Homo sapiens: one gene and its partners. The protein of the gene in region 5 purifies or fractionates together with the protein of the main gene of each other region. This does not show direct contact. Each region holds a gene or a part of one and is shown on either strand. Other genes may lie near its edges.

Region 1 (3,500 bases), on a different chromosome or scaffold from region 5:
CTTTACCTCAAACCTGGTACCAGGACCTAGCATCTTAAGTTGAATCTTACTCTTCTAGTCAGTATTCTCAACTAAAGGCATATAACAGTAATTTATGTATAAAAGCAAAGTTGCCTATTTTAAAATTCCAAACTTAAAAAAACTTATAATCTCAAAATATGCTGTAACATTACACTACAATTATTACTCAAAATGAAGGTGTGAGTTTAACAAAAAGCTTAAAAAGTAAGAAACAGAAAAGTGAGAAACAGAAAACCTTGCCCTCTAAAGGTAACTCATTGTAAAAGGCAATGTAAGAAGCCAACCCAGTTCAAAAAAACATCTGTAACTGGTTTTGGTGGGGGAAAAGGAACTATAAGATACAGAAGCTGGCCAGGTGCAGTGGCTCATACCTATAACCCCAAGACTTCTGAAGGCCAAGGCAGGAGGACTGCTTGAGCCCAGGAGTTCAAGAGCATCCAGGGCAACATACTAAGACCCTGTCTGAACAAAAAATTTAAAAATTAGTCAGGCATGGGAGTTCAGGAAGGAGGGGACTGCAATGGGATGATCACTTGAAACCAGGAGATCGAGGCTGCAGCGAGCCATGATTGTACCACTGTGCTCCAGCCTGGTGACAGAGCAAGACCCTGTCTCAAAAAAAAAGATATAGAAGTTTACAAAAGAAACATATTAAGTATAGCCGACATATACTAAGAATTCCTTAGGAAAATGCTAGGGACACCTATAAGTACTTTACACATATTAGCCCATTTGATCCTCAATAATAATTTTATAAAGCAAGTGGCTGTACTATTTCCATTTTATAGCTAGAGAAACCAAGGCAAGACACAGCCAGGATTCAACTTTGGCTGTCTGGCTTCAGAGGCTGATAAGGTTTGGCTCTGTGTCCCCACCCAAATCTTATATTGAATTGTAATCCCCACCTGTCAAGGGAGGGAGGTGACTGGGTCATGGGGGTGGTTTCCCCCATGATGTTCTCATGATAGTGAGTTCTCAAGAGACAGTGAGTTCCCGAGTTCTCAAGAGACAGTGAGTTCTCACAAGATCTGATGATTTTATATAAGTCTCTGGAAGTTCCTCCTTCACTCTTCTCTTTCCTGTCGACTTGTGAAGAAGGTGCTTGCTTCCCCTTCCTGGGGCCTCCCCAGCCATGTGGAACTCTGAGTCAATTAAACCTCTTTCTTTTAGAAATTACCCAGTCTCGGGTATTTCTTCATAGCACTGTGAAAATGGACTAATACAGAGGCTGTGCTCTCATCACTCACAAACTGCCTCTCCAAAGTAAACCTAACTCAAGTGTCAAGAACCTCTCTTTGGACAGAATATCAACTCAGGCTTGTGCCAAACTTTGGTCTGAGGCACAAAAATTCAGAAACATACCATACGGTGAATCGAATTGTGTTGTTCCCTAGAAACAGGGACAGATCCTCTGTCATTTGGTCCTGACTTTTCTTGTTGGCCACCATCACCATAATGTAATCAGGAAGTTCTTCATCTATTTAAAAGGAAAGGTAGATCAAAACTTTGTTTCCTCAAAACTTTCTTCTTAAAGTTGATGTGCTTGAAAATATAGATGTAGCTCTAAGCTTTAGAGTCGCAGAGCTCTACTGGAATTACATTGGACAAGATGGCTTAGCTTTAATTTTTTTCTCTTCATTCCACAGGTATTTCAAATACTAGAAGAATGGAAATTAAGAATAATTGATACTTACAAAACTAAACATTCTGAATTATAGGGTCAAACTTGAGCATGCATTCACTTCCTTGAATCTTTTTAATAATGCTTATTAATTTCAAAGAAGCTTATGGGAAATATTTGAACATTCCCCAAGAAAAAGAATTGAGTTTTGTTTAGTTTTAATTTGCAAAGTTTCAAAATAACACTCATTTCTCAAGTGAACATCTTTACCCTTGCTAAAGGCAGGTTTCAATTACTCACAGTAACAAACTTGTAGCAACATCGAATAAACAAATAGACCCAAAAGCTCCACATCATTTAAAAAAATCAATTTTAACATTAAATAATGTCAACTCAATGCACGGTTTTACCCTCACAGTGGTAATCCTACAATGATTATAAGGGTGAGGTCTAGGATAAAAAAAAAAAAAAAAGAAAAAAGGCCAGGCGCGGTGGCTCATGCCTGTAATCCCAGCACTTTGGGAGGCCAAGGTGGGCAGATCACAAGGTTAGGAGATTGAGACCATCCTGGCTAACACAGTGAAACCCTGTCTCTACTAAAAATACAAAAAATTAGCCGGGTGTGGTGGTGAGCGCCTATAGTCTCAGCTACTCGGGAGGCCGAGGCAGGAGAATGGTGTGAACCCAGGAGGCGGAGCTTGCAGTGCGCTCAGATCCTGCCACTGCACTCCAGCCTGGGCAACAGAGCAAGACTCTGTCTCAAAAAAAAATAAATAAATAAAATAAATAAAAGAAGCCAAAAAACACCCTCCTAGTGGTAATCCTACAGTGATTATGAGAGTGAGGTCTAGGATTTAAAAGAACAAAAAAACAAAAACCTCACTAAGAAGATAAGGAAGCAAAAGCTGTTATCAGGAACTCTAATCTCTGACCCTCAAAACTCCATTCCAGTTCTCTTTTTTTTTTTTTTCTTTTACGACAGAGTCTTGCTCTGTCTCCCAGGTTGGAGTGTAGTGGCACAATCTCGGCTCACTGCAAGCTCTGCTTCCTGGGTTCAAGCGATTCTCCTGCCTCAGCCTCCCGAGTAGCTGGGATTACAGGCACCTGCCACCACACCCAGCTAATGTTTGTATTTTTAGTAGACACCAGGTTTCAGCATGTTGACTAGGCTGGTCTCGAACTCCTGACCTCAAGTGATCCACCCACCTCGGCCTCCCAAAGTGCTGTGATTACAGGCGTGAACCACCATGCTGTGACAAATTTCTTTAATACCTTAAATACTTGTAATATTTCTATGCAGGCAGAAAGGTTCATTTCAGAAGTACTTTTTTTGTTTCAAAGAAAACTATAAAAAATGCAGTTCAAGTGTTGAAAGAATAAAAGAATAAATAAATCTTGGTTCAGCTTTATTTTCTCTGAGCCTCAATTCTCTCATCTGTTAGTCTTCCAACAATCCTGACAACAAATCGTTTATGAAAGTGCCCAGCAAATGGTGGTAAGTACTCCATAAATTACCAATTCTCAAACTGTTTGGTCTTGGGCCCCTTCTTTGGTTTATGCAGGTTCTATTATTTATGGTGTTCAAAATTAGAACTGATCATTTTTAATTAAAAAGTATTTATTAATTCATTAAAAAATAAATCCATCACATGTTAATCACAAATCCAATTATATTAACACAAGTAACATTATTAAATTTTCCAAAAAAAAATTTAGGCAAGGCACAGTGGCTCACACCTGTAATCCCAGCACTCTGGGAGGCTGAGACAAGTGGATCACCTAAGGTCAGGAGTTCGAGATCAGCCTGGCCAACATGGTGAAACACCGTCTCCACTAAAAACACAAAAATTAGCCGGGG
Region 2 (3,500 bases), about 150 Mb from region 5:
TTTTTTTTTTAACCCGTAAGGGAAATCCATCTTAGTATCTAAATGTGGGGGATAAAGGAAAAGGGTGGCAAAGGAAAGGACAACCATCCACCAAGTGCTTCCTATGTATCAGGCAATTTACTCATTTTTCATTTAATTCTTATAATAACACTTCAAAGTAGGCATTATTATTATCTCAACTTTATGGTGAAGAAAGTAAGGCTCAGAGAGATAAAATAGGATGGGGCAGAACCAGGATCAGAACCAGTTCCAGTGCCCGTGCTTTTGCGGGAACACCAAACTGAGCTGTCTGCTGTCCAGGTCTGAGATTCACACTCACTAGATCCCACACGACACAGCTGAGAGAGCATGAAGCACAAAATCAGAAGCACTGGTTTGAGTCTCAGCTCTGCCCCTCACTGGCTAAGGGATCCCGCTATTTAACTTCCCCAAGCCTAAGGTGCAAATAGTACTTACCCATGTCACAACCACAGGAGCTACTGCCAGTGAAAATGATACAAACTAAAATTCTAAACAAAGTTCAAAAATTATTATTTTCTCTGGTTTGCCAAGATATCAAACTCACCCAAGAAAAGACTTAAGCACCTGGCACCTAAGCATTTTCTACCTTTTCTTTCTGTTCTAAACTAACTCTCATTGCTCCTTACAGACTCCTCACCATCTCTCGTCTTTTGACCATGAAGACTTATCTCCTTTCTGGCAGACCACACAGAACAACCTCACTATGGGGTATATAAGGTTTTCATGGATTCCCCAAATACGTTTAAACTTTGACATCATAGGCAACAGGTCCAATGGCAATAATCTGAAATAAACAAATTTTACCCAAATTTAAGATGATTACATTTATAAAACTATACAAGCATATTCTTATTTTTCAGATCCTTTGAAAAACAAAAAGTGGCTACTGTAAGACTGTAATAGGCAAACTGCTCCACAGCTAATAGAATTGAAGGCCAGATCCACTGTGGAAAGAAAATTCAATTTCTCTGTAAATGTCACAAATTGTTTCCATTATACTGACAACCTGAGTTTATAGTTTAAAAGCACACACACAAAAAAAAAACCTCTATAAAGACTTCGGAACAGTCTATTATTTCTAGATTTAGAGGATTGCTATGGCTACTCACAATCATTCTTCTCTTTGAACATCTTTTTCCCTTGAGACATGGTCTTGCTCTGTTGTGCCCAGGCTGGAGTAGAGTGGCGCAATTACAGCTCACTGTAACCTCAAACTCCTGGGCTCAAGCAATCTTCCTGCCTCAGCCTCCCAGGTAGCTGGGACTACAGGCACTTGCCCACCATGCTCAGTTATTTTATTTTTAAAATTTTTTTGTAGAGATAAAAGGCAGGGTCTCACTCTGTTGCGCAGGCTGATCTCAAATTCCTGTCCTCAAGCAATCCACCTGCCTTGGCCTCCCAAAGTGTTGGGATTGCAGGCATGAGCCACTGCACACCCAGCCCGAACATCTTATATAAAACTTCTACCGACCCCTATTATGAATCATCTCATGACACACCATAAATGACAGACTCCCTGAAACAGAACACTAAAATGACAACTTCAAAAATGAGGCAAGGCGGGGATGGCCAGGCACAGTGGTTCACCCCTATAATCCCAGCATTTGGGGAGGCCCAGATGGGAGGACTGCTTGAGCCCAGGAGTTTTGAGACAAGTCTGGGCACTGTAGAGAGACCTCATCTCTACCAAAAAATTTTAAAAATTAGCCGGGTGCGGTGGCTCACGCCTGTGATCCCAGCACTTTGGGAGGCCGAGGTGGGCAGATCACAAGATCAGGAGTTCGAGACCAGCCTGGCCAATATGGTGAAACCCCATCTCTACTAAAAATACAAAAATTAGCCGGGGGTGGTGGCGGGTGCCGGTAGTCCCAGCTACTCGGGAGGCTGAGGCAGGAGAATCACTTGAACCCGGGAGGCGGCGGTTGCAGTGAGCTGAGATTGCACCACTGCACTCCAGCCTGGGCGACAGAGCGAGACTCTGTCTCAAAAAAAAAAAAAAAATTTTAAATCGGCCATGTGCCTGTAATCCCAGCTACTCAGAAGGCTGAGGTAGGAGGATTGCTTGAGCCAAGGAGGCCAAGGCTGAAGTAAGCTAAGATTGTGCCACTACACTCCAGGCTGGGCAACAGAGCAGGACCCTGTCTCCAAAAAAAAAAAACAAAAGAAAGAAAAATGAGGCAGGAGGATCACTTGAGCCCAGGGGTCTGAGGCCAGCCCAGATAACATAGTAAGACCCCCATCTCCACACAAAAACAATTTTTTTTTTGAGATGGAGCCTCCCTCTGCAGCCCAGGCTGGAGTGCAGTGGCGCAATCTCGGCTCACTGCAAGCTCCACCTCCCGGGTTCACACCATTCTCCTGCCTCAGCCTCCCGAGTAGCTGGGACTACAGGCACCCGCCACCACGCTTGGCTAATTTTTTGTATTTTTAGTAGAGATGGGGTTTCACCGTGTTAGCCAGGATGCTCTCGATCTCCTGACCTCGTGATCCGCCCACCTCAGCCTCCCAAAGTGCTGGGATTACAGGCATGAGCCACTGCACCCGGCCTTTTTTTTTTTTTTTTGAGACAGAGTCTTGCTCTGTCACCCAGGCTGGAGGGCAGTGGCACGATCTTGGCTCACTGCAACCTCTGCCTTCCGGGTTCAAGCAATTCTCTGCCTCAGCTTCCCAAGTAGCTGGGATTACAGGTATGCGCCACCACGCCCAGCTAATTTTTATATTTTTAGTAGAGATGGGGTTTCACCATCTTGGCCAGGCTGGTCTTGAACTATTGACCTCGTGATCCACCAGCCTCGGCCTCCCAAAGTGCGGGGTTTACAGGCGTGAGCCACCATGCCCAGCAAAAAAATTGTTTAAAAACATAGCCAGGTACAGTGGCACATTACTGTAGTCCCAGCTACTGCGGAGACTGAGGCAGCAGGGTTGCTTGAGCCCAGGAGGTAGAGGCTGCAGTAAGCCATAATCGAGACACAACATTCCAGCCTGGGCAACAGACTGAGACCCTGTTTCATTGAAAAAAAAAGAAAAAAGAAAAGAAAAAGGGCTGGGCACAGTGGCTCATGCCTGTAATCCCAGCACTTTGGGAGCCCGAGACGGGCGGATCACGAGGTCAGGGGTTCGAGACCAGCCTGACCAATATGGTGAAACCCCGTCTCTACTAAAGATACAAAAATTAGCTGGGTGTAGTGGCGGGCGCCTTAATCCCAGCTACTCAGGAGGCTGAGGCAGGAGAATTGCTTGAACCCGGGAGGCGGAGGTTGCAGTGAGCCAAGATTGAGCCACTGCACTCCAGCCTGGGCAACACAGAGAGACTCTGTCTCAAAAAAAAAAAAAAAAAAAAAAAAAAAAAAAAAAAAGGTGACTCAAAAAAAGAAAGAAACTCCGCACCCATTAAACAGTAACTCTTTATCCCCACCTCCCCCCAGCCCCTGGTAACTGCTATTCCACTTTCCATCTCTATGAATTTGACTTTTCTAGAT
Region 3 (3,500 bases), on a different chromosome or scaffold from region 5:
TGGAGTGCAGTGGCGGATCTCAGCTCACTGCAACCTCCGCCTCCCAGGTTCAAGCGATCCTGCCTCAGCCTCCTGAGTAGCTGGGATTATAGGTGTGTGCCACCACGCCCGGCTAGTTTTTTTGTATTTTTAGTAGAGATGGGTGTTTCACCATTTTGTTCAGGCTGGTCTTGAACTCCTGACCTCAGGTGATCCGCCCACCTTGGCCTCCCAAAGTGCTGGGATTACAGGCGTCAGCCACCGCGCCCGGCCTGCAAATGCTATTTCCAAAAGACGTTCTTCATGATGCTGCTGTGTTTCTCAGTGGATGGCAAAGTAGCACTGGTGTTTCTTGATATTACAGTATTTTAAATTAATGTATTATCTATCAGTCTGAATTTAATAAAGCTAATTCTCAAGTGACAAAGCCAAATTTTCTTTTCTTTTTTTTTTTTCCTGAGACAGGTCTTGCCCTGTCATCCAGGCTGGAGTGCAATGGATCTTGGATCACTGCAACCTCCACCTTCCAGGCTCAAGTGATCCTCCTGCCTCAACCTCCCAAGTAGCTGGGACTACAGGTATGTGCCACCACGCTTGGTTAGTTTTTGCATTTTGGGTAGAAACAGAGTTTCAACACATTGCCCAGGCTGGTCTGGAACTCCTGGGCTCAAGCGATCCTCCCACCTTGGCCTCCCAAAGTGCTGGGATTACAGGCATGAGCCACCAAGCCTGGCCCCAAAGCAAAATTTTCTGTCATCTGACAGCATCTGCCTTTTAAGCCTCAGAAGACAAATCATGGCAAATAGGCAGGAGCACAGAGCACTGGGGAAAACACAAACCAGGGGGTCACAGAAAAACTGGAGGATTTGCTCTATCACTGAGGAGCGGCTCAGTGTATGCAAAACAACATGAAGCAACAGGGCCTAACTCACTCCCAGAAACAAGGATCTTACAGCCTCGTAGCTCAGAAATCCCTATAACTTCCCTGAAAAAACTGCAGAGACCTAAGAAAGATACTGTGGAGCCAGATACCATCATGATCTCTGACCATCCCTGCACACGTCCCAACACAGGAATACACCCACACAGGCTGTCAGGCCTGTGGCATCACCCTGGGCTCACCGGCTCAGGGGGGGATCATCAGGGCTGGTGCCTGGGGCTGGGTATGGTGCACAGCTGTCGTCCACAGGGGTGGTTGGGGATGGGCAGGGCAGGTACACTGCACTCCACAGCATCAGGTTACGCACATGGCACACAGGGTACAGCACCTGAGGAGGGGGGAGGACACAGGTTTAAATATGCCCCAATAAGTCTTCTAGGATGTCTGGAAATGAGGATCAAGAGCAAGCACCCAGCTGGAATACCCAACAGGGCTGACAGGATCTCCACAAAGAAGCAGCACCAATGGATACAGGTCTATCCCAAGAGGACCAATACAGGACTAGACATTTTATATAGCCAACATTTTTCACCTAAGAGCCACTTGAGAGCATGAAAATATAAAATATTTTTTAGATCCCTTTCTCATTATAGTTATTTCTTAGGTCACCTTCAATGTCTGACTTTCATCAGCTTGATTTGTTGCTTTTACTGCCTAAGAAAGTGAGTCATTCTGTTAGATGGTGATTGTCCATCCTGCTGGCACAAAAGCTTGGCTTCAAGAAACACTGTCAAACCCATTTTATGGGATCATTTAAATTAATCATGTGAAAAGAAGGAAATTTTCCTGCTGTATTGTTACTTCCCCAGAAGGCACACTGAAGGGGAGAGACAAGCAGTCAGCTTAAATCTTTTCTGTGATTACTTAAATGTAATGAGAACCATATTAATAGTCCAGGAAATCAGTATGAACTCTGATTAGCCTCCTTTTGACTTCTTTAGGGTCTAAGATGCATTCTGACAAAGCTAGTATTACTATGAAACTGACACATAGGTCTATGTGCCTCCTTTTCTCTGCTTAACAGAAGGTATTCATTCCTTCGGGGAACAAAGTCTTAAAGGGCCTGCCAGCTCTTCATGTGAGCAGAGAATCAGACAGACACACATACCAATGTCAAACACAGTTTACTGTTCTGAGACAGAAGCTTTGGTGGGTATCATTGCTTATTGACACTGGGAGGGTGCTGGGGGCCTGGTGGCAGCTCATTCTGAGCTATCAGTGCATCAGGAAGCAACTTAAGTGCCTCTCCCGTAAGACAGAATATGCTAGAAATAAGCTCTGGAGGCAGTGCCAAAAAAGATTCATGTCTAGGGTGGCAAAGTAGAGATCTGTGTTAAACCAAACCACCCTCAGCAAGTAGTCATCAGAAACAGATCAGAGCACCATCAGAAGCAGGCCTTCCTCAGGACAGAATCATGGGGGAAAAATGGAACCAGTCCATCCAGAGACAGTAGAGATGTCTTCACAAAAACAGTCACTACTCAAAAAGGCTCTCATATGTAACCAACCCCAAATTCCTTCTGCTGACCACAGTGGAAAGGCTGAAGGATACATACGGCTTCTGACTGAGAGGAATACAGTAGGTTTTTGAAAGCCTTGTTGCCTGCCCGAAGAAGTGACCACACGGAACATGTCCGTTCCTGAGTATGCTTTTCCCCTCTCTCCTTGGCGTTGTTGCACAGGAATGTTCCAAACAGGCAGGAATAGGTATGCTGCACCAGTTTCACCTATGGAAGTCCAATGAAGCACAAATTAAGCAATCAGGCATGCACACTCTGATAAGTCAGCTCAGCTGAGCCACCTTATCCTAACATCCCTGAGAACACTTCAATTTACTCTGTCAGGACGGGGAACCCAGTAAGCCATGCAGTAGCCTCCTCCTCCTCACACCACCAATTCCAGGACCCAACAACCTGAGTCAGACAGGTTGTTGGTGCCCCTATTCCTCTTAGCTTCCGTGATAAATAGTCTGAGATTGTGAATTAACAGCCACTCTCACAAGCGCCACAGCATATGAACTGGGTGCAGGAGCACGTCAGTGTACAACTCAAGTCTGAGCTGACAGTATGTTTGTAAAACTACTTGTTCATTCTACAAATTATTGAGCATTTCACATGGCCCAAACATGACTAAGGTGCTGGGCATGTAGCAATGACCAGCAAATTCTTCTGCCCTGATGGAGCTTGCTCTAGTCATAGCTGAAGAGTGACCAGTGCTATGGAGAACAAGGCAGACTGAGATGGACAGGACACATATGAGGCAGTGCAGGATGGCCTCACTGGCTGGGACCCAGTGGACTTGAAAGAGCAGGCATGTGGGTATCTGAGGGGAAGCACTCCAGGCAGAGGCAACCACAGGTGCAATGGCTTTGAGGTAAAGCACATGCTTGCAATTTCTGAGCTACAGCAAGGAGGCCAGTGTGACTAAAGGAGATTGCAGAAGAGGGAGAATGGTAGGAAATGAACCTAGAGAGGTAACCTCTAGGAAGGCCCTGGAGACCATTTTAAGAACTTTGGCTTTTGTGTAAAATGTAACTAGAGGTTTTTAAGCCAAGGAATGACACAGCCTGCCTTGTGTTTTA
Region 4 (3,500 bases), on a different chromosome or scaffold from region 5:
CCGCTTCTACGACCAGGGGCGCCGGGGCAGCAGCGACCCCACAGTGCAGCGCTCCGTGTTTGCATCGGTGGACAAGGTGCCAGGTGAGCCAGCCCCCCGCCCTGCGCCACAGCTCGTTCATCATGGTGGGCGTTCAAGGTCTTTCTCTCTGTGGAGCCTGTGTGAGCTGCCCTTCCTCTCTCAGAAGCCCCGTCGGCTGGCAGCACCAGCTTCTTAGAATTTGTCAAAGCACAGCGCAAGATTAAACACAGCCCCCAAAATAAATTTTGGCTTTCCCTTTAGTGTTTGGTTTGGTTTTCCAGAGATTTGTTGGGTATGTGGAAGAACTTCTCAGAATTGACTAAGAATTTTCTTGGAAATTTCTTGGAAACATTTAAATGATTAGTGCTGAAGTTGTGGGAGAGTAATTTCCTTCTCCATGTAAGATGACTAGAAAGAGAGAGTGTGTTTGGTTCCGGTTACAACCCCCTGAAGAAGTGAGACTTCAAAAGAAGGCCGTGCTGCCCACAGGTCAGCTGTCCACTCCTTCCATATGAGGGCGTCTCCTCCCACTTTTGCCACAGCTCATCTCTAACCCTGCTCCTCCGCTCCTCCCAAAACAGAAACTTGAATGGAAAGTCCATTGCTGATTTGTCAGAGTGGAAAGGACCACTTCTCCAGAAGACCGAGTTCTCCCCTTCCTGTTCTGACATGTCTGCTTTAAGTAAATCCGTATGCACCCCGATCCCTCGAAAGAGAGCCTTTCTTTTGGTTGCAAAAGTTTAGAGCGCTGGCCAAGCTCTCCCTCACAACTTAACCCCTCCCCATATAGGGCTTCAAACTTAAGTTGCAAGTGTTGTGAAATGTTTTCAAAAGCAGTTATTGATTTAAGAACAAAACGCAGCCATAGGAACCTGCTCAAAACCCGAGTCCTGGTTCCCCCATGTGATTTATTTTAGTTTCATTGTTTGATAATTCATTATTTATATGTATATACCGTAGGCATATGATTTTTTAAAATCCAGACAGGAGATGATCAAATGAAAAATAAGTCTACTTTGCTTCAGAAGTAACTATTGTTAACAGTTTCTTGCCTGTCTTTCCAGAAATATTTCTTTGTATGTCATGCATATGTTTGTTTTTTACACATGGGGTATACCGTATGTCTGATGCTGCACCTTGCTACTTCTTCCTTAATAGAAAGTGTCACACATTAACACGTATAAATCAACCTAATTCTCCTTAACTGTTACATGGTATTTTGTCATATGGATGGGCAAAAAAATCTTTTTTGCTGTTTCGTATTTGGGTCATTTCCAGTGTTTTGCTCTTACAGTGTCACAGTGAGCATCCTTAGGGTGTCTTTGTGTAATTGTGCAAATTTCTCATGTCTGTGTGATAAATTCCTAGCAGTGAATTTGCCAAAGGGGAAGGTTTTTAATCTTGATATATGTAGTCCCAACGTGAACTCTAGAAAACAGTACACCAATTCACTCTGCCACCCACAGCTTGTGATTGGTTTCTTTCTTAAATCCAGTCTCAGGGCTGGGCATGGCGGCTCATGCCAGTAATCCTAGCACTTTGGGAGGCTAAGACAAGGCGGATTGCTTGAGCCCAGGAGTTTGAGACCAGCCTGGGCAACACAGTGAGACATCGTGTCTAGTATAAATAAAAAATTAGCCAGGCATGGTGGTGGGCACCTGTGGTCTCAGCTACACTCAGGAGGCTGAGGTGGGAGGGTCACTTGAGCCCAGGAGGTTGACGCTGCAGTGAGCTATGATTGTACCATTGCCCTCCAGCCTGGGCAACAGAGTGAGACCCTGTCTCAAAAAGAAAAGAAAAAAATAATCTTAGGCTGAGAGACTGATTGTGGCACCGCCTGTTTTCAGTGATGAAATGTGAGATGATTCTGCCTGTTTCAGGGTCAGGAGGATTCTTTGCTTAAAAAATTCTGCAGGTTGCTTCGTGTTCTGTGGCTATGATTGCTAAGTAAATATAAAGTGTGACTGAGTCTAAGTTAACTAAGTACAAATTGACCTGGTAAGAAATGACTTCTTTAGGGTCATTGAGGCGTCTTTCAGTTTCGGAACTTACTGGTTAAAGAGAAAAGCCCAGGCCTTATTTCTGTTCTGAGCCCTTTTGGAACAAGGTAGAATGTAAATAAATACATGGAGCCAAGCGGCCCATTCTTCAGCATCTACATGATCATTTCTCTGTTTGCAGAATGCTTTAGGATGACTTATTGCTTACCTCTTCTACCCTGCCTGGCCTTCCACCGGTGGGTGAGAACATCAAATGCCAGGAGTGTGGCCCGGCTCCAGAACCTGGGCCTGCCTGCCGGGGTGGTTGGCACAGCTGGGATGCCCCATGTCCTGTTGCTGGTCCCAGGGTCAGCAAGTGTGAGGCTGTGCCAACTGGGACAACAGCAAGTCAGAGGTGGCTGCTGAAGGCAGCATCCACCCCTTGGCTGTGTCTCCCCTGACTGCCCCTGGAAGTGCCACTCAGCTATGAGGAGTGAGATGGAGACATTCTTATTTATCACACCACCCCCGCAAAGAGGGAGGCCTCGCTGCCCTCCCACCTTGGCTTGGCACCAGAGCTGTGTCCTGAAGAGCAAGTTGAAATCCCTGAGCCTTGGCATGGTGGGAGCATAGGCTGCCCCCACCCCCATCTCAGTAGTCAGGGTCCCCCACAGCAGCAGCCACTCAGCACTTTGGAATCATTCTTAAAACTTTTCACCCTGCTTCCACACCCACCAGCCTGCTTGGCCTCCAGAAAATACTGAGATCCGAGATCTCCTCTCCCAGATCTCCCAAGATTGCAACAGAAGCCTTCTCAGGATCCCTAGCTTCCATTCAGCCAGTGGGATCATTCTAGTACTTAAATCAGATTACGTCATACCCCTGCCTCCAGCTTTTTGGTAGTTTCCTGTTGCACTTAGAACAAAATCCACATCTCTCCTTCTGATCTTGGGTGGTGGCTGTGAGATCCGGCCCCAACTGGCCTCTCAGATGAAGTTCCCCCAACCCCAAGCTCACTCTAGCCCCAACCCCAGCCTTGCCAGCCCCTGCTGCTCCTCTAAGCTAGCATTTCTCAGAGTTTTAGCCTCAGCACCCACGTGTTTATCTGCTTAAAAAGTATTACAGAACTTAAAGAGCTTTCATTTAGATAGATTATATTTATAGATATTTATGACATTAGAAATTAAAACTAAGAAATGCTTTCAATATATACTTCTTGAATAAACCCATTGCATATATGCATAACTAACATAGTTTTCTATGAACAATAACTCTGTTTTCCAAAACATAGAAAAAAATTGATCTTGCACATTTCTGCAAGTCTCTTTAATGCCTGGCTTAATAGAAGACATCTGGATTCTCCTCTTTGCTTCTGTTTTCTGTCTGTTGTGATAGCATGCATTCTGTGGCCTCTGGAAAACTCCTCAGTACACCCCTGGGAATATGAACATAAAAGAAAAATGTCTTACTATTTTTATGAAAACAAGGATTTCCAGACCA
Region 5 (2,834 bases):
CAACCTAGGTTTGCAACCCTGATCCCCCCACCTGTGGTGCCAACCAAGTCTGGCTGCCTGCCGAGCACCAGCTGGAGAGATTGATGGAATGGTTCTGGGTGGTTCTAGGCACTTCCTGCAAATAGCCAGGGTGGAGACCCACGCACACTGGTTCCGAAACCAGAGTAGACATGAGACTTCCTGAGGAACTGACTCAGCTGGTCGGGGACCTGCAGCTCCCATCCCGAGGGGACTGGACCTGGGGGTGGCGCTGCTCTCAGGTGCCAGGGCTCCCTGCCCACACTTCAGACCCACTGTGGGGAGGCTGGATGTGCCCCACAGAGATGCCCCCTCGTTGTCCTAACACATCCAAACAGAGAACCCAGAGCAGGCCGGGTGTCTGGCGGGAGCTAGTGGCCCGGGGCTCAGTTACTGTAGGGCTATCCATCTTCCCTAAGACTGACCAGAACCTCGAACCTAGAAAACCTGCCTGTGACTAAACGTTTCAAGAAGAGAAGTAGTTGTATAAATCAGCAAGTATTTATTTTAAATAATAAAACTACAGTTTTATACCATACATATTTACAAAAATGCTTTGCTATAGAAAAATAGAATCAATCACTGAATCCAGACCACCACAGTGGAGAACCTCCTGGTGAAGCTGTGTTTTTTCCCACACTGGAAACACAGAGTAGCCCTGTTTCTGCACACGTTAGTGCACCGCTGCTACGTGTGGCCGCCCAGCTGTCTGCAGGCTGTGCCGACCACTGCCTCTGTCTCCAGGAAGCAGAGGCAGAAGTGATCCTTGCTGAGGAGGGCCATCGAGTCTCCGCTTAAATGCCAGCACAGAGAGAGCACTGCAAAGTCGCCTAGAGAGAGACAGGTGGCCAGAGGATTACAGCAGGGGAGGCCCAGATTCTGGGGGATGGGCACCCCCTTGTCCTGCAGGCCAGCACAGTGCCTGGAGTGACCCACATAGGCAGAGCCAGGGTGGAGCCCCAGAGCTGCCTCAAGTCAGGGAGAGGCTGCTTCTAGCCCATAAAGCTGAGGGCAGCGGGTCCCCTGTGTGTCCGTCTTGAGGTTTACGCAAAGACTCTGAGGGCAGTTTCCCTGGAGTGCTGCCGGAGACAGCAGCTGGGCTTCAACAGTTCAGCCCGTGTGATGCCAGACTGCACACAGCAAGGCTGCCACGTCCGTGGCCTCGGGGATGTGCTTACCTTCCCCAGGCACCTGCACCGACATGCAGCCCGCTGGGGACCACAGGTAGAGCCTGCTGCCTCCCGTGCAGATGGCCAGCCGCGGCTGCTGCGGGTCCCACTGAAATGCGCGCACTGGGGACAGCTGCTCGAGCACCGCGAACAGCCTCAGCTTCTGAATGTCCCAGACCCAGACGGCATTGGGAATGTTGTCTGAGGAAGGAAGGACAGGGCACCGGTGTCATCCCTGCCTGGCTCCTCTGTGTTGGCCCTGCCCCTCTGCTCTGCTGTTGACACCACAGGAGGGGAGGGGAAGAACCGGTGGGGTGGGGCGGCTGCACCCTGCAGTCTGGGTTCAGTTGGGCCCTGTAGGGCTCCTGGCCAGGGCCAGGGTGGCCATCACGGGCTGTAAGGGGCCCAAATGTGTTTCTTTCTTTGGTATTTTTTTTTTTTTTTTAGCCCTTTACAAATGGAGAAACCCTTAACAAAAGGCGGGCTGCAGTGTGCCCAGCCCTGCTTTCTACTCAGCAGAGTGGAGCAAGTGAGCAGGGTGGAGGCCTCCTGACTCATGCGCGGACCTGCGGCTGCTGCAGGACAAAGGCCCAGCGCCTCCAAGGAGCTTCTGTGAGCACCTCGGCTACTGCAGAAACGTGAAAGGAGGTGACGTGTCGGAAACCCCCAACTTCATTTTCTTTTCCAGTCGCTTCTACACCTGGGGCCACAGGACACAGTAAAGGGTGAGACAGCACCTGCGTCAGCACAACTGACCGTTCCTTGTCGCCAGGAAGTAGCTGTCAGGACTAAATGCCAGCATTCCTATGCCGATTTTCGGGTTTGCTCTGTCGGTAACAGGTTTCAGTGTCTGTAAGGAGACTGGGACAGAGGCGATCTCATCTAGAACACCAACAGGAAGAACACGCCATTGTCACCCTTTCGGGAAGTACGCACGCGGCTGAGAGGCTGCTGTGCCTGCATCGGGCATCGCGAACCCAGCTCCTCTGTTCAAAGGGGAGGAAAGTGCGGCCCAAGGGCAGGAAGAGCTAAGCAAAGCCTGGCAGCCGCAGCGAGGGGCCTGCCCGCAAGTGCCCCGGATGAGAGTGGCACCATCACCTGCCAGGCCCGACTAGGTGGGGGGTGGACCCCACGTGCCAGGGGCTGACTGGAGAGGGACATGGACAGGTCCTAGCTGCAATCTCAGCAGCTCCAACTCCTCAGCACTTTTCTGTCGACTACCAGCATCTGAGTTCACAATCCCTTCCACCTCAGCGTCAGTACCCTTAGACTTTCCGGCTGTGGAAGAACCATCATCACAGCAGAAGCAGGGGCTGTGGAACAAGGACGCCCCTGGGCTCCTGGGGAGCGCCTCCTGTGTGCCAGGCTGCACCTGTCCTGACCCCCATCCTGAGCACACACCGAGCCCCGGGGTGGGCCCGTCGGCACTTGGGGCACCGCTTCCTCTACCTGCAACCTTCAGATGCCCTCATGCCCCTGTGGGATGGGTGCTTTTACTATGCCCATTTCAGCGATGAGGAAACAGACACATAGGAAATGCCCAGAGTCAAGAGGCTGCATCAGAACCGGGCCTCAAGCCGGAGACAGCGCTCGGGAGCACCGCCGGGTTCCAGACCCACTCTGAGCGCCACCCACGGAAAAGTGTTT
Region 6 (3,500 bases), on a different chromosome or scaffold from region 5:
AAAATATACTAAAAACAGTGGCTACTTTCCTTAAGTGATGAAATAGAAAATATTTTAAATTTCTTCTTCATACTTTTCTGTATTTCCTAAATTTCCTACTTATAAGCATCTTTTGGTAATTGAAACTAAGTATGTGAAATAAGTCTTATCTTAGAGGCTTTATTTAAATCTTTATTACTGAACTAAGAACTTCATTATACCATAATTGTCAATAATATATGTACTTAGACTTGATAAGGTTATTTTATAATTTCATTGTTCAGTATTAATAAAAAATTAAAATCTGTTCATCTGCAAAGTAATTTAGAATGCCCTATGTTATATTTTCTAAAAAGTCTTCATTCAGGTGTTAGAGAAGAAGAATGGAGAATACAGGGCTCTGTACAGGGACGATAAAGATAACATGAGTAGTTAACAGGAACACTATTTTAGTCCTGAACAAACTATGTTTAATATGATATGTATAACCTAAGGTTTAGTGATATGGCAACCACACATTCAGAATTAGAGATGACTGCATTAAACAAAATGAATGTCTGGTTTGAAGGGAAAAACAAAATCTACGCAGGAATAATTTGGAATTTGTTTACAAATAAGGTTTTAAGTCAGGGGTGGTGCCCACACTTGTAGCCCCAGCAGGAGAACTGCTTGACCTCAGGAGTTCGAGGCTGCAGTGCACTATGATTGTGTCTATGAACAGCCACTGCACTTCAGCCTGGGCAACACTGCAAGACCCTATCTATTCAATTAAAAAAAAAAAAGGTTTTAAAAATAAGGGTGATTTAAAATGTAAAGATTTGGGCTGGGCATGGTGGCTCACGCCTGTAATCCCACAGCACTTTGGGAGGCTGAAGCAGGCGGATCACTTGAGGTCAGGGGTTCGAGATCAGACTGGCCAACATGGTGAAACCCCATCTCTACTAAAAATACAAATATTAGCTGGGTGTAGTGGTGGGCACCTGTAATCCCAGCTACTCAGGAGGCTGAGGTTGCAGTAAGCCGAAATCGTGCCACTGCATTCCAGCCTGGGTGACAGTGAGACTCCATCTCAAAAAAAAAAAAAAGAAAGATTTGTAAAAATTTCATTTTATGAGAAACTAAGGATTCCTACAGAAGTACAATTCTTATAAACAATTTAAAACAACAGTTTTATATCTAGAGAAGGCCTTAGAAACCATCGTTTAAAGCTTACATTTTATCTTTCTCTAAGTTTCAAGCTTTTTCATGTGTAAAGTGACAGGTTTAATCAACAGCAGTTAGTGGCAGAGCTAGATCTAGAAGCTGATTTCCTGGGATGCCCTATAAATCAGAAAGGTAATTCTATTATAAATTAATATTACAAGAATAGAGCTCTAAACTGAATGAAAATAGCAATGACTTCATGATCTAAACCATCACACCCACTATAGTTGCCTTTGAAATTTTTCTTACTGGCCAATGGCTATTCCTTTATATAGAATATTTTTAAATAGAGAGAAGTGGTAAAGAATTTTATTAACATCTAGAGTCTGGAGTAATCCAGTATCACTAAGCATCATCTGACATGGTAAAATTTCCAGTAAGATCTATTTAAGGTCCATTACAGAATTACTTAAACCTTGTATTATTTAAAAAATATCTCAAGAGGACAAGTAGTCTACTTCTGCAGGAAAATATTTTTAATACCAACTATAAAATGTTTATAATTTTATATACGTAGAAGACTCAGCAAAATTTTATCAGATCAGGAGATTAGAGTATGAACAGTGGGAATCCGTAACAAATGTGACTGACTAGCTGGCAACCTGATGTAAAAACACAGAAGGCTGCCCTAAAAGCAGGAAAAGAGAGTTTAGAAAGCAGTTTTCCTGGTTGGGTTTTCGTTGTGCACCTCACCTGCTCTGGAAGTAGTTTGCTAGCTCTGATGCTTCATGGTTCAGACTCCTCAGGTGCACGATTAAATTTCCAGAGTTGGTGAACATGGCGCCACATGTTTTGCACTCGTAAATCCGAGGCTTGCGGATAATGTGCCGGGAAACCCTCATGTGGTGTTTATATTCCCCGAAGGAAGTGAAAGTGGCACTACATATCTGGCACCGGAAACAGCGTTTACCTTCATGCTTTAGGCGATGCATCTTTAGCGAGTAAGCCCTGGTGAACTTTTTCCCACAGCGGTCACACTGAAATGGTTTAATTCCTGTAAATAAAGCAAAACAAAATATCTAAAAACAAAAATAAACTGAAAAGTCATAAACCCTACAAATTTCTGAACTATATTTCTGTAGCAACAGATCATCTGAAAAGGCAAGAATTACCAGCAAAAACATATTCTAATTGAGTATCTCAGAAAATGTGCAGAATATGTGAAAAGTCACAAGTGCTTAAAAAGGAAAAGAAAAAAAGGCAGTAGGGGAGGCAAACTAGGTAACGTCTACTGAAGCTGATTTTTGAATGCTTTTCTAGATCATCTATTTTACTAACTTCAAAACACAATTTAACTACAGTATGTAGACAGAACCCAAATCCCCACTAACAGCACATATTATTTCATTTCATTAGAGGTTTACATTGAACGGATATGAAAATCATCAGTACCTACTCTCTGTTCCCTATCTCACAGAGAAACGAGAAGAAAGAACAATTTTAACATCTCTGAATGTAATGAGCATGACAGAACCATCATTTGATATAATGGGTTTTTTTGGGTAATATGATGTAATATTGATAGAAATAAATGAGTTATAAAGTGTATTAATAGTCTCCTCAAATTCATTATCACAGTGTTTTGGGGAAAAAATTTTAAAACCTTTCAAAACACAGTCTACGGATTGAACAAAGTCACAGAGAATTGGTGCTAGGACAGGGACTGTAAGACCTATCTACAGAAGGGGAAAGTGAGATAGTAACTCACGCAGCTGAAAACAGCAGCAAAGATCTCTTACTCGTCAGAGGTCAGTGTTTTACCCACAAGAATCCTGTTGCCTTCATGTGATTACTGAACTAAAATTTCAAATCCCCTCTATACATTTATCCAAAATCTCTGTTATGTTTAAAAAAATACAAACTACAAAGCTGACTCATCAGGGCACACAGAGATTTAGGACTGTAGAATTGAAAGTAAATTAGCAAGAAAATATTACATTTTTAAACACACTTTTATTTGGGAAAAATTTCAAACTTAAAGAGACATTATAAGAAGAACAGCACAAAGAACACCCATACAGACCCTTTTAACCCTATTTGCTTTACCATCTGTGTTTGTGATTCTCTATCTCACCTCTATGTGCACACCTAATATGTCTTTTTATTTACAAAGTACTCACTCCATATCACCTTATGTTCTTTTAATCAGAATACTCAACACCCGTGGCAAGCAGCTTTCTGACACTGCATCATTTCAGCAATAAACCTTAGCTAATCTGTTTTCATTTGACTTCCCAGAGTTTTTTTTAAAACTCAGAAGCCCCTGTTTTCTATTTTAACTGGGACTGCAAAATAAAATGTTTTAGAGCGTTCACTTA
Region 7 (3,500 bases), about 12 Mb from region 5:
CCTGGGTAGAAAAAAAACAATTTTTTTATGAAAATAAATAAATAAATAGGGGCCGGGCACGGTGGCTCACGCCTGTAATACCAGCACTTTGGGAGGCTGAGGCAGGCAGATCACTTGAGGTCAGGAGTTCAAGACCAGCCTGGCCAACATGGTGAAACCTTGTCTCTACTAAAAATACAAAAACTAGCTGGGCGTGGTAGCACACGCCTGTAATCCCAGCTACTCAGGAGGCTGAAGCACAAGAATAGCTTGAACCCGGGAGGCAGAGGTTGCAGTGAGCTGAGATCACGCCACTGCACTCCAGCCTGGGCAACAGAACGAGACTCCGTCTCAAAAAAAAAAGGCTGGGTGCAGTGGCTCACACCTGTAATCCCAGCACTTTGAGAGGCCGAGGCAGACAGATCACTTGAGCCCAGGAGTTCGAGACCAGCCTGGGCAACAGAGTGAGACCTTGTCTCTACAGAAAATACAAAAATTAGCCGAGTATGGTGGTGTGCGCCTGTAGTCCTAGCTACTTGGAAAGCTAAGATGGGAGGATCTCTTGAGCCCGGGAGGTTGAAGGGACACAGTAAGCAGTGATCACACCACTGCACTCCAGCATGGGTGACAAAGTGAGATCCTGTCTCAAGAAAAAAAAAAATACAGGAAGGAGAAAAGCAGATAGGCCATAACTGATGGTTGTTGGAGATGAACGAGAGGAACTTGGGATTCACTGACTATTGTGTCCACTTTTGTGTATGTTCAAAATTCCTGAGATAGAATTTTTAAGATATATAACACAAATTGATCATATAGTAATATATATGCTTCTTTACTAACACACCAAATAAAAGTATCTAGGCCAGGCGCAGTGGCTTATGACTGTAATCCCAGCACATTGTAAAGTCGAGGTGGGCGGATCACCTAAGATCAGGAGTTCAAGACCAGCCTAGCCAACATGGTGAAACCCCGTCTCTATTAAAAACACAAAAATTAGCTGGGCATGGTGGTGGGCGCCTGTAATTCCAGTTACTCGAGAAACTGAGGCAGGAGAATTGCTGGAACCTGGGAGGCAGAGGTTGCAGTGAGCCGAGATCATGCCATTGCACTCCAGCCTGGGTGACACAGCAAGACTCTGTCTCAAAAAAAAAAAAAAAAAAAAGTATCTGGCAGCAGATCTAACAGCCACTGTAATTTCCAAGTTGTGATGACAATAATGAAGTATTTGCAAAAACTGTAATATAAAATATGAAAATATATATGATTTGTATTGGTGACGAAAATCACAACTACTATTAGTTTTCTCTATATTATAGTTGAAGGAAATATTAGATCCCAGTAAGAAGTTACTAAAAATAAAGAGGTATTTTCCCACCCAAGTTTAGTACTTCCTCCTGAATTCTGATCGATGAGGTCTTCATTAAAGATTCTAACATCTGGCCGGGCACGGTGGCTCACACCTGTAATCCCAGCACTTTGGGAGGCCGAGGCGGGCGGATCCTGAGGTCAGGAGATCGAGACCATGCTGGCTAACATGGTGAAACCCCGTCTCTACTAAAAATACAAAAAAATTAGCCGGGTGTGGTGGCAGGTGCCTGTAATCCCAGCTATTTGGGAGGCTGACGCAGAATGGTGTGAACCCAGGAGGTGGAGCTTGCAGTGAGCCGAGATCACACCACTGCACTCCAGCCTGGGCAAGAGAGAGAAACTCCGTCTCAAAAAAAAAAAAAAAAAAAAGTTCTAGCATCCTTTTCACACAATAAAGTAATAAATTACTCTTTTATCTTTTAATCCAAGGACACTTTTAAATAATCTTGAATGCAAATGAGCCTTCACTGCAAACAGCATAATTTTTTTTTTTTCTCGAGACAGAGTCTTGCTCTGTCACCCAGGCTGGAGTGCAATGGCATGATCTTGGCTCACTGCACCCTCCACCTCCTGGGTTCAAGCGATTCTCCTGCCTCAGCCTCCCGAGTAGCTGGGATTATAGGTGCTTGCCACCATGCCAGGCTAATTTTTTGTATTTTTAGTAGAGATAGGGTTTCACCATGTTGGCCAGGCTCGTCTCAAACTCCTGACCTCATGATCCGCCCGCCCGCCTCAGCCTCCCAAAGTGCTGGGATTACAGGCATGAGCCACCGCACCCAGCTGCAAACAGTGTAATTTAAAAAAATTACTGGTTCAGACAAAATACTTCTACCTACCAATTTGATTGGTAAAAGACAAATCGCTATATGTTAAATATAGTTTTGTAAACTGCAAAATGTTTTTTGAGTACATAAGCCCCAGTTTTTAAATCAAAGGAAAAATAAATGATGTGTAAAAAAAAAATCACTTTTAGTCAATTTTAAGAATCAAAGAAACTATAAATGTATTATATGTAAAAGTACATACGTTATGTGTAACATAATGGGAATATAACAATCAAAGTCAATACAATGTATAATTAAAAGAATCTTCATATCATTTGGCAATGTTCCCTAGTGACCCAAACAGCATCTAATACAAAGACAGGCACATGCAACCCTTGCATTTAAGGCTGGACTAAAAATCTAGCACCAGGTACACAGGATAAGAAATAGTGTTTCTCATTTGAATTTTCCCACAAATCTTCCTTAATTCTAAGGATTGGAGCAGTTCCTTAAACTATATAATACAAATCTTTAAATATGCTAGAGTTCATTTCATTTCTATACTCAAAATGAAATCATAAGTAATTAAATCCAAGAATTCACTAAATTTAAGTTAGGATTTTATAGAGCCATTCCACTATGGTTTTTTTAGATGCTTGTAATCTTCAACTTGGCAGACAGGAATACATGTAGGGAGAACAATCTGAATATTGAGATACTTTAAAATTATATCCAAAAAATCTTTTCACTCACTGCAAAGCATATTTCCACACACTAAAAACCAGCTAGATATCACATAAAAATTACATGGTTTTGGCCGGTCGCGGTGGCTCACACCTATAATCCCAGCACTTTGGGAGGCCGAGGTGGGCAGATCACCTGAGGTTAAGAGTTCGAGACCAGCCTCAACACAGAGAAACCCCGTCTCTACTAAAAACACAAAATTAGCTGGGTGTGGTGGTGCATGCCTGTAATCCCAGCTACTTGGGAGGCTGAGGCAGAATTGCTTGAACCTGGGAGGCAGAGGTCGCGGTGAGCCGAGATAGCACCATTGCACTCCAGCCTGGGCAACAGGAGCGAAACTCCGTCTCAAAAACAAACAAAAAAAAACTACATGCTTTCTAATAAAATGATTAACATTCTAATTGGTTTCCACAGAGGAGTACACTATTTTCATTCAAAATATGTGTAGCTGTAAGGCAAGTAAAAATAATAAGTTTAAAGAAAAATTTAAACCAAATAGTAAAGAAGATTGTTAATTTAACTACAGATAAATGTACTTTATTTAGTCTCCTTGTTCAGCAGGCTAATATATGTGTTTCAAGGGGCTGAACAGCACTTATTTCAAATCATCTAATAACACAATTCAGGAGCCCAATTTAATGAATA

What was found.
Region 1: the proteins of WRAP73 (region 5) and ZC3H14 purify together in Homo sapiens (co-immunoprecipitation; 3 studies listed by BioGRID and IntAct, with this or other methods). This does not show direct contact.
Region 2: the proteins of WRAP73 (region 5) and PRCC purify together in Homo sapiens (affinity purification with mass spectrometry; 3 studies listed by BioGRID and IntAct, with this or other methods). This does not show direct contact.
Region 3: the proteins of WRAP73 (region 5) and MTMR3 purify together in Homo sapiens (affinity purification with mass spectrometry; 2 studies listed by BioGRID and IntAct, with this or other methods). This does not show direct contact.
Region 4: the proteins of WRAP73 (region 5) and CLEC16A purify together in Homo sapiens (affinity purification with mass spectrometry; 3 studies listed by BioGRID and IntAct, with this or other methods). This does not show direct contact.
Region 6: the proteins of WRAP73 (region 5) and ZBTB44 purify together in Homo sapiens (affinity purification with mass spectrometry; 3 studies listed by BioGRID and IntAct, with this or other methods). This does not show direct contact.
Region 7: the proteins of WRAP73 (region 5) and SPEN purify together in Homo sapiens (affinity purification with mass spectrometry; 3 studies listed by BioGRID and IntAct, with this or other methods). This does not show direct contact.

What each region holds. Positions count from the first base shown.
Region 1 is NC_000014.9:88,566,037-88,569,536, reverse strand, and holds part of ZC3H14 (zinc finger CCCH domain-containing protein 14), read right to left. Parts: intron 1,680-3,500; exon of another isoform or gene 1,499-1,679; coding exon 1,384-1,498; intron 1-1,383. UniProt on the Homo sapiens protein: RNA-binding protein involved in the biogenesis of circular RNAs (circRNAs), which are produced by back-splicing circularization of pre-mRNAs.
Region 2 is NC_000001.11:156,774,035-156,777,534, reverse strand, and holds part of PRCC (proline-rich protein PRCC), read right to left. Parts: intron 1-3,500. UniProt on the Homo sapiens protein: May regulate cell cycle progression through interaction with MAD2L2.
Region 3 is NC_000022.11:30,015,674-30,019,173, reverse strand, and holds part of MTMR3 (phosphatidylinositol-3,5-bisphosphate 3-phosphatase MTMR3), read right to left. Parts: intron 2,647-3,500; coding exon 2,476-2,646; intron 1,248-2,475; coding exon 1,102-1,247; intron 558-1,101; exon of another isoform or gene 445-557; intron 1-444. UniProt on the Homo sapiens protein: Lipid phosphatase that specifically dephosphorylates the D-3 position of phosphatidylinositol 3-phosphate and phosphatidylinositol 3,5-bisphosphate, generating phosphatidylinositol and phosphatidylinositol 5-phosphate.
Region 4 is NC_000016.10:11,126,064-11,129,563, forward strand, and holds part of CLEC16A (protein CLEC16A), read left to right. Parts: coding exon 1-83; coding exon of another isoform or gene 84-217; exon of another isoform or gene 218-281; intron 282-3,307; exon of another isoform or gene 3,308-3,435; intron 3,436-3,500. UniProt on the Homo sapiens protein: Regulator of mitophagy through the upstream regulation of the RNF41/NRDP1-PRKN pathway. Mitophagy is a selective form of autophagy necessary for mitochondrial quality control.
Region 5 is NC_000001.11:3,630,270-3,633,103, forward strand, and holds the end of WRAP73 (WD repeat-containing protein WRAP73), read right to left. Parts: intron 2,070-2,834; coding exon 1,944-2,069; intron 1,888-1,943; coding exon of another isoform or gene 1,754-1,887; intron 1,389-1,753; coding exon 1,197-1,388; exon of another isoform or gene 849-1,196; coding exon 706-848; 3' UTR 501-705; downstream 1-500.
Region 6 is NC_000011.10:130,234,918-130,238,417, forward strand, and holds part of ZBTB44 (zinc finger and BTB domain-containing protein 44), read right to left. Parts: intron 2,177-3,500; coding exon 1,876-2,176; intron 1,300-1,875; exon of another isoform or gene 1,193-1,299; intron 1-1,192. UniProt on the Homo sapiens protein: May be involved in transcriptional regulation.
Region 7 is NC_000001.11:15,854,207-15,857,706, reverse strand, and holds part of SPEN (msx2-interacting protein), read right to left. Parts: intron 1-3,500. UniProt on the Homo sapiens protein: May serve as a nuclear matrix platform that organizes and integrates transcriptional responses. In osteoblasts, supports transcription activation: synergizes with RUNX2 to enhance FGFR2-mediated activation of the osteocalcin FGF-responsive element (OCFRE).